2 separate regions of the Homo sapiens genome follow, and region 2 is linked to region 1. The links come from fine-mapping of genetic effects on gene expression. Tissue or cell type: whole blood. Region 1 holds a variant in brackets; the other region holds the start of a gene. All regions are shown on one strand. Distances are between the middles of the regions.

What was found. PIP is the estimated chance that this variant, and not a neighbour inherited with it, causes the effect.
Region 2: SUPT7L starts here. The variant in region 1 is fine-mapped to the expression of SUPT7L in whole blood (TOPMed, PIP 0.92).

The regions. Positions count from the first base shown.
Region 1 is chr2:28,532,427-28,540,531 of GRCh38, reverse strand. It overlaps PLB1 (phospholipase B1), which reads right to left. Exons shown (of 58, transcript NM_153021.5): 10 at 2,151-2,213; 11 at 1,354-1,433; 12 at 91-166. Among named protein-coding and RNA genes, the nearest start is that of PLB1, 40 kb to the right of the region's middle. RefSeq lists a silencer at 1,016-1,310. The variant G/A (reference allele first, on the strand shown) is at 3,345.
Region 2 is chr2:27,660,462-27,668,561 of GRCh38, reverse strand. It overlaps SUPT7L (SPT7 like, STAGA complex subunit gamma), which reads left to right and starts at 4,948. Exons shown (of 6, transcript NM_014860.3): 1 at 4,948-5,233; 2 at 6,281-6,383; 3 at 7,174-7,578. The coding sequence starts at 6,370. SLC4A1AP (solute carrier family 4 member 1 adaptor protein) reads right to left here and starts at 4,673. Exons shown (of 14, transcript NM_018158.3): 1 at 3,985-4,673; 2 at 3,267-3,462; 3 at 1,172-1,294. The coding sequence starts at 4,647.

The DNA of each region.
Region 1 (8,105 bases):
ACTCAACTAATTGTCCCTATCACTCCTGTTCTCCTTGGCGACCACGCCACCCCGGTGAGCCAGCAGCTTGGGATCCCAGGTTGGGCTCACCTGATAAGACCACTGCATCACCACCTTGGCCAGCCGGGTGGTCTCCTCTGAGCAATTACAGGGCTCTGGTGCAGGGCTGCAGGTTAAAACACACCAGGAATGAGAGAGGGGAGGCAGTGTGGGCAGGGAAGGGGATGCATCCAGCCCGCCTCTTATGGAAGAAGGGGCATAGGAGTTGCTTAAGGAGTAGGGATGAAGAAGCATAAGTCTTAGAGGACATAAATGTTGAGAAGAATAGAGGGTGGGTGGTCCCTTCTTGGGGGTTGGGTATGGGATGGAGGGAAGCTGTTCCTGGGGGGTGGGTATTGGATGGAGGGACGTTCTTCCTAGGGGGTCGATATGGGATGGAGGGAAGCTCTCCCTAGGGGGTGGGTATGGGTTAGGGGGTAGGTATGGGATGGAGGGAAGCTCTCCCTGGGGGGTAGGTATGGGATGGAGGGAAGCTCTCCCTGGGGGGTGGGTATGGGATGGAGGGAAGCTCTCCCTGGAGGGTGGCTATGGGATAGAGGGAAGCTTTTCCTGGGGGGTAGATATGGAATGGAGGAAAGCTCTTCCTAGGGGGTGACTATGGGATAGAGGGAAGCTCTTTCTCCCCCTTCATCTCTCAGTCCTCCTCCTCCCCGCTCACTGTTCTTCACACCAGACACCCACATCCCATTCCCCTTTCCCTCCCCTGTACCTTCTCTGTCTTGCATCCTCTTCAGAGCCCTCCTTCCCCAGCACCCCACTTCTCTCCTTTCCAGCACTCTCTTTTCTCCACCGCCCTTGCCCTGACTTTTTCCACATGAACTTCTTTTCTAGGTCCAGAGCCAGAATTCTTAGGATTTGGCTCCAAAAAGTTTAAAGTCTATGAACATTTTCAGAAATATATAGGAATCAAGTTCTGTGAAGTTAAACTACATTTAGGCTACGTTTTTCTATCCAATTTCCAGAAGTAACACTTCTTAGCTTATGGATGTTTTGCCAAGGCGAACTCTGAAATCACTCTGGCACTGAGGAGAGCCTCTGGCACAACATCAACCAGAATAAAAGAATAAAGTATTTTATTCTTTGACTCAGTCCCCAAAACAATGCTTGGCAGAGGGCCCACCCCACCCCGACTCTGCCACTCGCTCGGGTGTGAGCTCGCATGTGTTTCTCGGCCTCCTTTGGCCTCTGTTCTTTAGGGCTCCCTCATAGATTACGGCACATGAAGGGCCCCCACAGGCCGCACACGTGACAGCCGTGTCACAGATGCGTGTCTCATTCCACTTCCCCTTTTACCTGAGCCAAGTGCCGTGATACTGACGAGAGACCTCTGCAACCTCAGAGAGGTCCACCAGGTTTACAAATGCTCTGGGGACCTAGGAGGACACACAGAGAGGGAGGTGAGTATTTGCCAAGTCGCCATGGCTGCCGGGCTTTCTGGAACTCCTGCTTGGGCCCCGTTGGGGTGTGGTTGAGTGTGATGGGCCTCCCCTTGGTTAACTGGGCCTGATCCTTTGGGAGATGTTTGGTCAGGGTCAGTCTGCGCTGCCAGCCCTGCATCTGTGCCATCCAGAAACAGGACTCTCTGTCCCTCACGGTGGGCGGGGCGCCTCCCACCAGTGTCCACAGGGGAGGGAGACCACTGGGGCTATGGGCCTGCAGCCTCCTCCAGCAGAAAGCTGCCCTCCAGGGGAGCAAAGCGGAAGGCAGGGCCACAGCAACCCCCAGCTGATTCTCAGACCCTGCAGCAGCATCACGGTCACTGAGCAGAAAGGTCTTGAAGGTCCTCAGGCCCCCTCCATCTTATCCTCGCCCCAGTCTCAGGTAGAGAGAGGCCTTAGGGAAGAGCAGGGCCACCGAGGACTCAAGGAAGAGCCGAGTTTCTCTCAGAAGTTTCCTTTGCAGGAGTGGAGTGTGCTCTCCTGGCCCATGTTCTCATTTGAAAGGATGAGAAGATGGGGTGCTCTAAAGTTTCCCCTTTCCCGAGGGTCCCAGTCTCCCTCACAGGGGTCCATTTCCCCACCCCGGTGGAGGCCACATGAGGGTAAATGGGCCCCACTGCCCTTGGGGAAGCCCTAGGCCCGTGGCCTCACCTCCTGCTGCAGGTAGTCCAGCACCCCCATCAGCTCATCCACGCCGCCCGCCGCAAGCCCATTCTGTGAGAGGAGAACCGTGCTAAGTGAGGGTGCCTGCAGGAGGACCACGAGGTGAGGCCACCCAGACTCACAACAGGCCCATCCCTGCCAGGCAAGACCACAGGCAAAGGCACCATCTAGACCTGGCATTCCACAAAGGAGGACAGAATTCCCAGAGCTTCCTAGTTTTGTCTTCATTTTGTTCTTCTATTTTCTCCCCAACCCATCATCCACCTGGGAAAAACCAAACTCCCCACAGGTGAAAAGTTCCATCAGGAAAGGGCAAACTCAAAGTCAGAGCAAGATCAGAAATACCTGGTGTGATTCTGAAGCTCACACTGAGGGACAGGAGACTTACTCCCAAAGACTTGAGGAATCGCTTTTTCCCAAAGAAAATCAGGTCCAACAGGGAAATACAATTAACCCTGTATTTAAGGCCCCAGATGGGCCTCGGAACCTTCATGTGATCCTATTTTATTAGCTTTTCTCTTGCTGTGTTTGCCCTAAGATAAGCATTCCTAGAGAAAGAGTATGAGTGGGTCCTGCCACCTGAGTATTTAAAGACATCTCCCACGCACCCAACACACACACCACTCCCCTTCCTGCAGGTCATGAAAATCAACAAATGAAGGACCTCAAAAACGGACCCTGCTTTACCTTTTTTTTTTTTTTTTTTTTTTTGAGATGGAGTCTCGCTCTTTTGCCCAGGTTGGAGTGCAGTGGTGTGATCTCGGCTCAGTGCAACCTCCACCTCCTGAGTAGCTGGGATTACAGGCGCCCGCCACCATGCCCAGCTAATTTTTGTATTTTTAGTAGAGACAGGGTTTCACCATGTTGGCCAGGCTGGTCTCAAACTCCTGACCTCAAATGATCCACCTACCTCGGCCTCCCAAAGTGCTGGATTACAGGCTGGGTGCAGTGGCTCATGCCTGCTTTACCTTTTCAATGTGAAAAATAATAAAAATTACAAGACAAACTTCTAAGTTTGTCCCCTAACAAACAGCAGACTGGCTGTCCCCTAAGGCAACTTGGCTCAGACAGGAAGACAAGGAAGGCCAAGGAGCTGTTCTGTTTCCCGGAGGGGACACAGGCAGTGACTCTGGAGACAGCTGTCAATCACCTGGGCTGGCACCACACAGGAGGAAATGCAGT[G/A]TCCCTGTTTCTCTGCCCCTTCACCGGCTGTCCCTGCTTTGGTGTGAGGCTGGCTTCTGGGAGGCCGGGTCAGCCAGGTCTGTTACCGTAAAGCCTTCTGTCTAGTTTTCTCCTAAGTGAGCTGCTCCCTGACCGTGACATCAAACATCACCCTCTCTTTCCTGAAGAGCCCAGGGGAACTCTGTCTAGAGGCATCCTCGCTGCCCATCTGAACCATACCCACCGTCCCTGGAGAGGCGGGGGACCCTGTGTGGCTCTCTCTAGAGTGTGAATCTTGCTGTAGAAACCCCTGGTCAAGGTGTTTACTTGCAGCTGCAGAGGGAATTGGGGCCCACCCAGTCATTCCAGGCACTGCATGGTTGTCGCTCGGGACACCAACTGTCCCCATTTCTCAGTAAAAGACATTATGCTCCTATAAGATGTCCCTCCTCTATAAGGTCATACATAATAAACTCCTAGAACCCAAAGTCAGGAAAAAGCTGATTTCTTCAAATGAACTTGTACATTTCCATGTGTATCGTTTGCCCCCTGGTTTGGAAGAATGTCTATTATCAAACACGTGCCTGAGACCCAACTTAACTCTTTCTAATAAATTATTTTATTGGGATTTAAACCAAGGAATGGGATATTATTCAGTCAAAAACTAGAAACACGTTTAGGTTTCTTGAATCACACACCAGTGTACCCTCCAAAAGGCTGCCACCTGTAGCTAGAGACGTTTACAAGGGATAAATGTGTCTGTTTTCTTGTAATCAGCTCTTTTTTTCATTTTTTCTTCTGATTTTTAAAATCTTACTAATTAATAAAGCCAAATTTAACTAGAGAGCAGTAAGCAAGTGTCCAGATCCAAAAAGCATCCTCAGGTCACTGCTGTGAGCCAGCTCATCATTTACCTCCAAAGCACCTGCCTTCAGAGTCATTGTCACACCTAATGGATAGTTGCTGACTTGACTCTCTGACTTTGGTCATAAGAAACTCCTAAAGAACAACTGTGGACACAGGCCCTTGTTTATTTCCCATTAAATGAGCCCAAAGGTCTCCACAGGGGAAGAGAATTCAGGTCCTAAGTTGGGGCAGGACAGTAGCTCAACATTTCCTCTTAAGGGTAAAACATGTTTTTCTCGTGTGAACTTTTAGGAAACCCTTGACACCTGCTCTGTAAAGTCAGGTGGCAGCTGGTGCCCACCTTCTCAACATATGCCCACAGAGGGATCTCCAGTGGCCCCTGGGTCTCTACAGAGCATTTGTTTTGTTTTGTTTTGTTTTTAAAGACAGAGTCTCACTCTGTTGCTCAGGCTAGAGTGCAGTGGCATGATCTCAGCTCACTGCAGCCTCCACTTCCTGGGTTTAGTGATTCTGTTGCCTCAGCCTCCCGAGTAGCTAGGACTACAGGCATGCACCACCACACCCAGCTAATTTTTGTATTTTTGGTAGAGACAGGGTTTCACCACATTGGCCAGGCTGGTCTTGAACTCCTAACCTCAAGTGATCCACCTGCCTTGGCCTCCCAAAGTTCTGAGATTACAAGCATGAGCCACCATGCCCGGCCATCTACAGAGCACATTTTTACAACCACCGAGGGAGAGCTTATACCTGAGATGTGCTTTCAGAAAAATAAAAATGCCACGTAAGAACTTCTCAAACAAGGATGCTGAGCTACACCACAGGATTAGCTTAAACGGGGAGGTGTGGCCAGAGGTACCACTAGGAGGTGAGTGTGGGTCTGGGCTGTGAGAAGGGCAACACCAGCAGGCCTGGCCAGGAGGCCAAAGGAGCCAGGCCTAGGAGCCACAGGGCCTCTGGGGTAAGTGGAAGTGGAGGTGAGATTTATTCCAGGCATCAAAGCCTTGGTGGTTTTTGTGCAATAGGAAAAATCAAGATGGAAGAAGAAATAGAATAAAGAGGGAATTTGAGTGGAAGCTAGCTGGTGTTGCTGTAATTAGCTAAATTTATGGACATCATGTTATTGGTTTACAGCTGTTTAAAAATGAGGAGGCATGATTACTTTTGTCATATGTTTTGAACCAATTAAAAGTGTGAGCTTCTAAGTGTGAATAAACTCAATTCATATGTCATCAACATGACTAGATCTTGCAGGAATTTCTCATGTTGACAAAAATCATTAAGTCTGAGAACAAGTGTTGGGAAGGTTGTAGAGAATAGGTGCTCACTGCCACTGGTGGAAATATGAGAGTTCAGCCACTTTGGAGGGCAATTAGGAGGCAGAGCCTATTAAAACCCAAAATGTGCGCACCTAAAGACTGGTATAAGAATCTACTCCAGGCGCTTTTCTTGAGACTGTTTTTTTCTTTTCTTTTTTTTTTATTTTCTTTTGAGACAGAGTCTCTCTCTGTCACCCAGGCTGGAGTGCAGTAGTGCGATCTTGGCTCACTGCAACCTCTGTCTCCTGGGTTCAAGTGATTCTCCTGCCTCAGCCTCCCGAGTAGCTGGGACTACAGGTGCCTGCCACCAAGCCCGGCTAATTTTTGTATTTTTAGTACAGATGGGGTTTCACCATATTGGCCAGGCTGGTCTCAAACTCCTAACCTTGTGATCCACCTGCCTCGGCCTCCTAAAGTGCTGGGATTACAGGCGTGAGCCACCGCGCCCAGCTCTTGAGGCTGTTTTTATCTTGACCCACAGTGTGAGATGTGTTTCACGTCCCAATCCAGTACAAGTATCCATATAGAAATGATGCAAAAATCTCATGAACCAATACTTACCTTACTACATGCAATGAACTCGAGGATTTTAGAGTTTATTCTATTCTATTTTTTTTACAATGTTGGTTGCAATCCTTTAAATTGATTTTTTGACTCACTAATGTACTTCAGTCCACAATTTGAAAATCACTGTATCTAGGAAAACTCTTCCACATAGTCAAGTAAATGAGCAAGACTGTTCATTGTAGCATTGTTTATAATAGTGAAAAACTAGAAATACCTACATGGCCATCAGTATAGGAAAATGGTGAAATAAAATGTAGTAAATTTACACAGCAAAATACTCATGGAAGAGAAATAAACTCATTCCATATATGTCAACATGACTAGATCTCAACAATACTTGGTTAGTGAAAAAAACTGTTCAGTAGTACATACAATATAACACTATATTAAATCTCTCTCATACATACAAGCACACAAAATAAGGCTTGGATTTATAGATATGTAAGAGGTTTGCAAAGAAAAAGAGACAGAGGATTAGGGAGGTGGCCAAAAGGATACATATTTTAGCTTTAACTGATGTTTTAGTTTTTAGAAGGAAAATATTTGTGTATTGCTTGCATAACTAAAAATACAAATAACATGTAGTTGAATACATGTGCACAAGAATACAACATGTATTCAAGAATGTTTGAAGGCATAAATACATGAAAGCATGCAAGAATTTATGTAGGAATGTTTAAACACAAGATGAAGTATATGGAAAAATCATTGATGAGTCTAAGTATTCATAAATGCATTCATACATTTTAAAAAATCATATGCTATCATGAACAAACTGATCACAAATACAATAGCATATGTCTGCATGTAAGATGAGAAAATGAATTTATACATGAATATAACTTATGGATGAATGATTCTATTAGTGAATACATAGAAGAATGCAGCAATATCTAAATGCTTGAACACTTCAGTGCGTGACTGCATAAATGCATGAGTTAATGTCATGGATTAATGAGTACAGAGAGCAATGCACCAATGTCTAAATGCTTGAGCATGTCAATGCATGAATGCATACATTCATGAAGTAATGCATAATGACCAAAAAGGGGGGCTGTGGAGAGAACAAATGAGGCACGTAAATTTCACTCGGCACTGGAGAAAACAGAGGGTAAACTGGAACAATAAATCTTCATTATCTATATGCTAAAAACCCAGGAAGGCTACAGGAATATTGGCCAATGAGAGCTAGTCAGGAAGGTGGATTTCCATCAATGTTCTTCCAAGGCTTGACATCACTAAAGGAAGGGGAGTTCTGACGGTGAGCCTGGAGTCAGTGGGAGTGTGGCGCACTTGAAGGAAGGCAAGAGTATCTACTGTAGGAGAGGGGCACAGAAAAGAAACCACCACCTCCAGAAGCTCCACCATGCCTGTGCCCTGGCCTGGAGGGTGGCGAAGAGGACAAGCTGGTCCCACAAGTGGCAGGGACAGTGTGGCAGCAGCCAGTCTTCAGGATCCTGAAGAAGAGTCCAGGTGCCATTTATTTCACCATGGCTTAGATTTCTAAACCACCCCTTACACTTTCAACTGATCCTAATCTGAATGATCTTCAATAAAGACTTAAGTCATAGATATTCACCTACATAAATAATAAACGAGACCACACGCTTCATGTCCTGTTTCCAGAAAAGCCAAAGCACTTGGAAGATACAGTCTACTTCAATAAAACAGCAGCTTTCCCACCACAAATAGAATTCATGGGCCAAGGGGTGAGGATGGTATGCACCCTGCTTTATTTCCTAAATTCAGAACTTACATGAAATCAGAATTAAGACGCAAGATAGTTTTTAACCAACTAGGACGCTAATTTTCTCAGTTGCGGAATGACTGTTGACTCAGCTTATCTATGCCTCTATTTCCTTTTCCTGATATGAGGGATGGTAAGTAAAAAACACCTGTTCCTTGTGACAGTTATGAATGCATGTCATATGTACAACATTATGAATTATCTAATGTCACTGAACTGTACACTTAAAATGATTAAGATGGTCAACTTTATGTGTATTTTATCACAATAAAAAAATTGAAGCAA
Region 2 (8,100 bases), 870 kb after region 1:
CGGAGCATAGCTTAAACCCAGGAGGTCAAGGTTGCAGTGAGCCAAGATTGCGCCATTGCACTCCGGCCTGGGCGACAGAGTGAGACCCTGTCTCAAAAAAAGAACAAGTTCTGGCTGGGCGCGGTGGCTCACGCTTGTAATCCCAGCACTTTGGATGGCCGAGATGGGAGGATCACGAGGTCAGGAGATCGAGACCATTCTGGCTAACACAGTGAAACCCCGTCTCTACTAAAAATACAAAAAAAATTAGCCGGGCGTGGTGGCGGGCGCCTGTAGTCCCAGCTACTCGGGAGGCTGACGCAGGAGAATGGCGTGAATCCGGAAGGCGGAGCTTGCAGTGAGGCGAGATCGCACCACTGCACTCCAGCCTGGGCAACAGAGCGAGACTCCGTCTCAAAAAAAAAAAAAGAACAAGTTCCCATACCACACTGAATAATAAATTTCAATGCATTTCACTTCTCATTCCTAGGGATTATTGTCTGATAATAAAATTAGAGTAAGTCTGAGGCAGAGAAAAAAACAAACTCAGATCAAAGTAACCAATTCTCCATACATAGCTCTGTTCACTGTATAGTATGTTTCACTTTTATAAGTTGTAGACTTTAGTGGTTATTTTAACACAGTTGCCTGGTTTTTAGAAGCACAGATATTAAGTGCACAGCTATTTCATATATTATTTATATATACATATAAAATATATACAGATATACATACATATACATAGATATTCTCTCAAAGTATTCCTACCAAAACAATCCTCTATGGAAAAAAAATTTTAAATCATATAATATAAAATCAAAACCTATGTTAGGAATTACAAAAGATCAGGTGAATTCGGAATTAAAAAACTACAGGAAGTTGGCTCAATTTCCCCACCACCAAAGTCCAGGATCTTTTGAGAAGAATGAGATGAGTCAGGAAAAAGTACTTCCTTTTTTTAAGATAAGAAGAAAGACTAACAAGATTTTTATGATTTTTTTCCCCTCTGCCATACTAATGAGGAATAATTTTCAAAATAAACCTAAAGCAACTGACCACAAGAGTAAAAAGTGAACAAGAAGGACAGCAATAAAATTATAGCATATCTTAGTATAAAGCTCAACATGAAGCTCTAGAAAACCACACTGCTCTGGATATGTTTTAGTGGTAGGGTCAGAATCTGTTTACATACCTTCTCGGTCAAAAAAGCCTTGGAGAGCCTTTTTGGGATCCTTTATATAAAAGGCCTCCCTTTCCTGCTGAAACTCTAAGACAATAGGGTTCTCTTCAGCATCATCCTCTACTGCATCTTCTCCTACAGGATATGGAAAAGAAAGAAAAGATAATCAGACATGAGAAGAGACTATTTGAATGATACCCACTATTCTCTCAGGCTGCATAAAGATATAGTTTAGGCTGGGCGCAGTGGCTCATGCCTGTAATCCCAGCACTTTGGGAGGCCAAGGCAGGTGGATCACAAGGTCAGGAGTTCAAGACCAGCTTGGCCAACATGGTGAAACCCCATCTCTACTAAAAATACAAAAAAAATTAGCTGGGCACAGTGGCGGGTGTCTGTAATCCCAGCTACTTGGGAGGCTGAGGCAGGAGAATTGCTTGAACCTGGGAGGAAGAAGTTGTAGTGAGCCAAGATCGCGCTACCTGCACTCCAACCCAAGCAACACAGTGAGACCGTCTCCCAAAAAAAAAAAAATATATATATATATATAGTTTATCTGTGATGAAAAATAATAAATACTTGCAGGGACAGGGGGTGGAACAACCACCACAAAACCACTAGTATGAGCATATTCAGGTTTTCTAAATTGTGTGACAAGTCAAAACTTGTTTTCATGGCACCTTAATTTTTTTTTCTCCATCATTATATTTTAAAAGTAAAATTACCTACCACATTGTGGAAAAAAAATTTGAGCTCCTCAGCCTGGCATTCTTGTTCTCTCACACTCATATCTAACTTTCGTTCCCAATATAATTTCCTAATACTTCTTATATCTGCCAAATAGACTGGTCTACTCACAACTTCCTTAAAATCATCAATTCCTACCCTGAATACCAATCCCAATACTCAGCTTCATAAGGCTTTTCCTTTCCTTCAAGTTCCAGCTCAAAATCCTTATGCTCATAAAGCTTCCCTGTGGAGTGCGATCGCTCACGCCTGTAATCTCTACACTTTGGGAGGCCGGGGGGCGGGGTGGGGGGGGGGGGTGGGGGGTGGATCACAAGGTCAGGAGTTCAAGACCAGCCTGGCCAATATGGTGAAACCCCATCTCTACTAAAATAAAAAAAATTAAGTTTCCCAAAGATCTAAGTCAGTGCTGTCCAACAGAAATATAATGACAGCTGTATGCGTCATCTTAAATTTTCTATTAGCCACATTAAAAAATTAAAAGGAAACAGGTAAAATTATTGTCATTTCAACATGTCATCAATATAAAAATATCATGAAAGAGATATTTTACATTCTTTTTTTCAGACTAAGTCTTTGAAATTCAGTGTGTATTTTGCATTTACAGCACACATCAATTGCAACTAGCCACACTGCAAGTGCTCAGTAACCACATGTGGCTAGTGGCTACCATATCAGACAACACAGGTCTAAGTCCCCAGTGACTGTTCTCTCTTCTCCAAACTTTCACTCTAGCATACTTATGGTTTCTAGCTTTTGTTTGGCACTTAGCACAAGTAATTTCATAATTTTTCCTATCTTCCCAACTATATATTAATGCCATCTTCTACCTTTTTATACTCCCATCTCCTGAATATCCATTTTCTAAAATATCTGGTGTTAAAGAAAGTTTATTATTTTGGCTAAGGGACCAGCTTTATCTGATTAGATATTCCACATTTCAGGATATCTTCACAAAGTACAAAAAATTCAAGAGAATATCCTATATTGAATAACATCCCATTTATTTGATTGAATAGAGTTCCATCCCCTCCAATGATAATCACATAGCACAAGGTCAGTACTTAATAAATATAAAATTTTAGAATTGTAAAAATAATAATTTTATGCTTAGGACAAGTTTTGAACAAGAGAGTGCATTAAAAATAAATTTTTAAAAAATCCAAAGTGCCTATAAGTCAATTTCTTTACAACAGTAAAGTCAGTGAATCTCTCTGGGTTTTGGTTACCTCATGTGCAAATTGTGTTTGCCCTATCTATCTCAAGGAGCCATGAAAAGCTGTATGATTTAAAAAAACATTTAAGGGTACCACTTGTAATGAACTTAAAATATTAACCTCCGGCAGCAATTTTAATTTCTTACCCATTCCCCAGGTGCAACCCATCTCATCATCTTGGCTACCAGCATTTATCTTCCTTTCAGAGGTATCCATTTCCTCTTCTTCATCTGAGTCTTCTCCTAGCATCTTCTTCTCCAACAATATTTGCTGCTGCTTGCGCAATTCCTTCAACTGTGTTACTGTTAACTCGGATTCTGCCTCTCGGTCTTCCTCTGGTCCCTGATGAACCAAGGAAAAAAAGGTTATTTATTTATTTAGAGACAGGGTCTTGCTCTGTCGCCTAGGCTGGACTGGAGTGCAGTGGCTGTAATACACCTCACTGCAGCCTTGACCTCCTGGGCTCAGGTGATCCTCCCACCTCAGCCTCCTGAGCAGCTGGGACCATGATGCCTGGCTAATTTTTTTTTTTTTTTTTAAGAGACAGGGTCTTGCCATGTTGCCCAGCCTCCTCTCAAACTCCTGGGCTAAAGCGATCCTCCCGCCTGGGCCTCCCAAAGTGTTGGGATTACAGGCGCGAGCCACCGCGCCTGGCCAAACAAGTTATTTTAGAGTTCGGGATTGTGAACATGACTTTCAGAAATATAGCAATGTGTACAGCCGTCTGAAGATGATAGGCCAGACTTGATTCCTTCACTTTCGTAATCGCTGAGTGGGAGATTCTTCTTCCTCATCCAAAGCTTAAGAAGCACAAGAACGCAGTCCAATGAACCCGAAATTTCAATTCTAGGTTTTTCTACCTACCTGCAGGATAAAGAGCCGGGTGCTGCCTCCAAAGCGAACAACATGCCCAACGTGGACTCGACAGTAGGTGCGAGGTGGGATGCGAGTTTTGTTGAGAAAAGTGCCATGGGTGCTTCCCAGATCGTAGAGGTAGAAGCCCGGCCCGTTGCTGTCGCATTCTCCGTCAGGGCCGGACGCCCTGTGCTGCAGCACTGCGTGGTACCGAGACACCGAAGGGTGCTCCAGGCACACGTCGCAGCCAGACAGCCTCCCGAAAAGGCAGTAACTCGTCCCTTTCAAGCTACGGGTGCCAAGGATAGTGCCGCCCTTCAGGGTCTCTAAGCTGTAGGGGGCTGTGGCAGGGCCACCCCATGGAGGCTCTTGGTAGGGGGGAGCCCGGGCTGGACCGCCAGGGGAAGAAACCGCTGTCGGGGGGCGCGACTGCTCCTCCTGTAGACTCCTAAAATCACCGCAGTCCGGCTGAGGAGGAGGGATGTCGGGCTCCCCAGAATTGGAGTCCTGCAACGCAGTGGGCCCTTCCTTCTGTACCTCCTCAGGGTTTGAAGAACTGCTGGCCGGGGCCTTACTCCGCGCCGCTGGGGACACCGGCAGAGCTGGCTTCTTGAAGTCCCCACTGAGGTCTTGCGACGCCAGGGTCTCTGACTGAGAGAGAATGTCAGCCATCCTCAACCGGTGCAACTTCGAAATCCGCTCCTTCGAAACCCACCCTTCGGTCTTTACGTTCCTGTCCACGTCCCACTCTCCCAAGCTCCCAGTGGCGTCTGTAGGCGGCGATGGTGAAGTTGCTCCTTCACGACCTGGAGCGTTGCGAAGTGGTGCTAACATGAGAAGGTCATAATATGAGAAAAACAAAACGGTTATCGGGATGCTGTGCAGAACGGGGACATATTTAGAGGTTACAACGGGATCGTAATGACTTCCTGTTGCATAGCTTGATTGAGAAGAAGCGCTTCCGGCGGTCTTAGATCACTAATCAACAAACCAGCTTTCGGGGTCTGACGCGATCCTTGCCTCAGGCCTCTCGAGGTCCAGACAGCCGCCCAGCCCGCTCTGCGACGCAGCAGTGAATAGTGTGGTACCTCCTTGTCTCGGTTCAGGTCCAGACCTCCCCGTCTTCCGGCTGCCCTGAACGTCAGGCGACCTCAGGACCCTGTGATTGGCGCCTGCGCCGGCGGACCGTGACCGAGGAAACCCCTGGAGGGACTTGGGCATTCCTTGGGCTCCGTGCCTGTTCTTCGTGCTCCTTTCGGTAAAGTAAGGGAAGAGGGCGACTTTTTTGTTATTTCGTTCATTCATTTATTTTTTTTCTGAAATTATTAAGGCAGAATAGTTAAGTGGTTAAGAGAGCAGACTCTGGAGACTGTCGATTTTTGACCTCGCCATTTGTGACATTGGGCAAGACACTAGGCCTCAGCCCTCACTCTGAAAAATGGGGATAAGATTATTAGCCTCATAGGGTTGTTGGAAGAATTGAATCAAACAATAAAGGCCAGCCAGACCGGTGGCTCATGCCTGTAATCCCAACATTTTGGGAGGCTGAGGCGGGAGGATTGCTTGAGCCCAGGAGTTCCAGAGGAGGCTGGGCAACATGGCGAGACCCTGTCTCGCCAAAAAAAAAAAAAAAAAAGAAAAAATCCAGGTTTGATGGTGCGCGCCTGTAGTCCCAGCTACTCCAGAGGCTGAGGTGGGAGGATTGCTTGGTCCCAGGAGGTTGAGGCTGCAGTGAACCATGACTGCACCACTGCACTCCAGCCTGGGCTACAGAGTGAAACCCTGTCTCAAAAAAGAAACAAACAAAAAAGGTGAAGTCTGGCATATAGTAAACATTCAACAAATGCCAGATATTTCTGTGTGCCTGGCCCTGTAACAAGACCACAGCCATAAGAAATAGACGGGCAGAAAAAATCTATTGCGATAAGTACTAATTAAAATCCAAGGATAACTGCTGTGACATAGACTTGCAAAGCACTGTGAGAATAGAGAAAGGGAGATGCACTGGTGAAGTGACGGACGGTGGGGACTTATGCTGTACTTAAAAATGAATATGAGTCTGCCAGGGATGTGCAAGGTTGGCAGAGCATTTCTGGCAGAGTTCACAGCTGAAAGTGTCAATTGTGGAAATGTACAGCATTCTCAAGAAACTGAGTAGTATAATGTTGTTAGAACAAAGGTAGTCATTTCACCCAGGAAGCTCCTCCTTTGTGCTTCCAGTACCCCAGGTCCATATACCTCTAGAACAGTACTTACCATGTTTCATATTGAAATATTCTGCTTCTGTTTCTCTTCCTCACTTCAGGGCAAGGATCTCACATTATCAGTCTTTGACCGACACAGAATGCCTGGCATTTGATAAATGTTTGTTGAACTTGAAGAGACATATGGACAATGAATCTGCAAAGGTGAGTTGAAACCAGATTGTGAATTTTGTTGAATGGTAAGCCAAGGAATTCTGACTTTTTCCAATAGGCAATGGGAAGCCATTTGATTTAAGTTTTAAAAAGAGTAAGTCTAGCAGCAGTGTAGAGAATAGATGACATACAAAGAGAGATTGGAGGAAGGGATACCAGTTAGAAGGCAGCAGAAATCTCTCACGTTCTATATGTCAAAAGTTGAAAGCATAATGCCATTTAGATTAATGGTTCATAAATTTTTCCACCAGGATCATGCCTAAGACACACAGAGTAAGAACCACTTCTTATTATCTTTAACCCTACTAGTTTTTCTCCTATTGATCCAGCACAGATGTATCAAGATACCTTATCATGCCTTGCTTATTGTTCAGGATTGAGCGTGATGGTAGTTCTGGTAATGAGTTAGTGAGTGAGATGGGAAATAGGGATACTAGAGCTCCAGATGCTGTTGTAGCTATTGGTCCACTAATGACCCAAATTCTACCCTGTGGTTCAGTGTAGTAGGAATTGTCATAGTATGACAATAACCAGCATCTAACAGTTACATTTCTCTTAATTTATTTAGGGAGAACACCTTTGGTCCTACAGTTTTGCTGACACTGACATTTTTCTAAGTGGTCACAAATAGCCTACTTTTTACATAAATAACTGGCTAGACCTCGTATTTTTCACTACAGAAGCCTATAATCTAAAGTTGCCAGGATTTAAACACATTACTTTTAGGTTATTGTCTACATTTATCCTGAGACCTCTTCTCTTCTTATTCCAAAATGTTGAGATACTGGGGAGAGATACCAATATCATCAAGCCAGACCAACAGAAGTTCCTTCGATTTGCTCCCACGGGAGTTCCGTCTGGTGGAAGTCCATGACCCACCCCTGCACCAACCCTCAGCCAACAAGCCGAAGCCCCCCACTATGCTGGACATCCCCTCAGAGCCATGTAGTCTCACCATCCATACGATTCAGTTGATTCAGCACAACCGACGTCTTCGCAACCTTATTGCCACAGCTCAGGCCCAGAATCAGCAGCAGACAGAAGGTGTAAAAACTGAAGAGAGTGAACCTCTTCCCTCGTGCCCTGGGTCACCTCCTCTCCCTGATGACCTCCTGCCTTTAGATTGTAAGAATCCCAATGCACCATTCCAGATCCGGCACAGTGACCCAGAGAGTGACTTTTATCGGTAAGGCAAGGCTTTGCTGTATCTTACTTTTCTCAAGTCATCTTCCCAACAACCCTGTTAAGCCTATAATAGCATTTCCATTTTCATGCGAGGAAACTGAGGATAAGAGTAATTGACTTGGCCAAGGTTTCTCCAGGTAATTAGTGGGATATCTAAGTTTTGAATGCCAGTCTTCAGAATTCAGGGTCTGTATTTTTTAATTTTTTGAGTGCTTACTATGTGCCAAGCACTTTACTAGGAGCAGGGTAATACACTGGTATGTAAAAAAGGCCATGGCCTCATAGTTCTTAGGATCTAGTCTTTCTATTTAATATAAAAAAAAATTATGGGTTTAGCTCGTTGTCTTCAAATTGGGATTCATGGACTTATTCTGGTATTTTTAGGAATCCGCAAGTCTACACAAGAATCTTTAAATTGTGTGTTTTCATTTTGATAACATAGTTCAAGAAATAATAATATAAGCTGAGCACAGTGGTTCATGCCTGTAACCCCAAGACTTTGGGAAGCCACGGTGGGTGGATC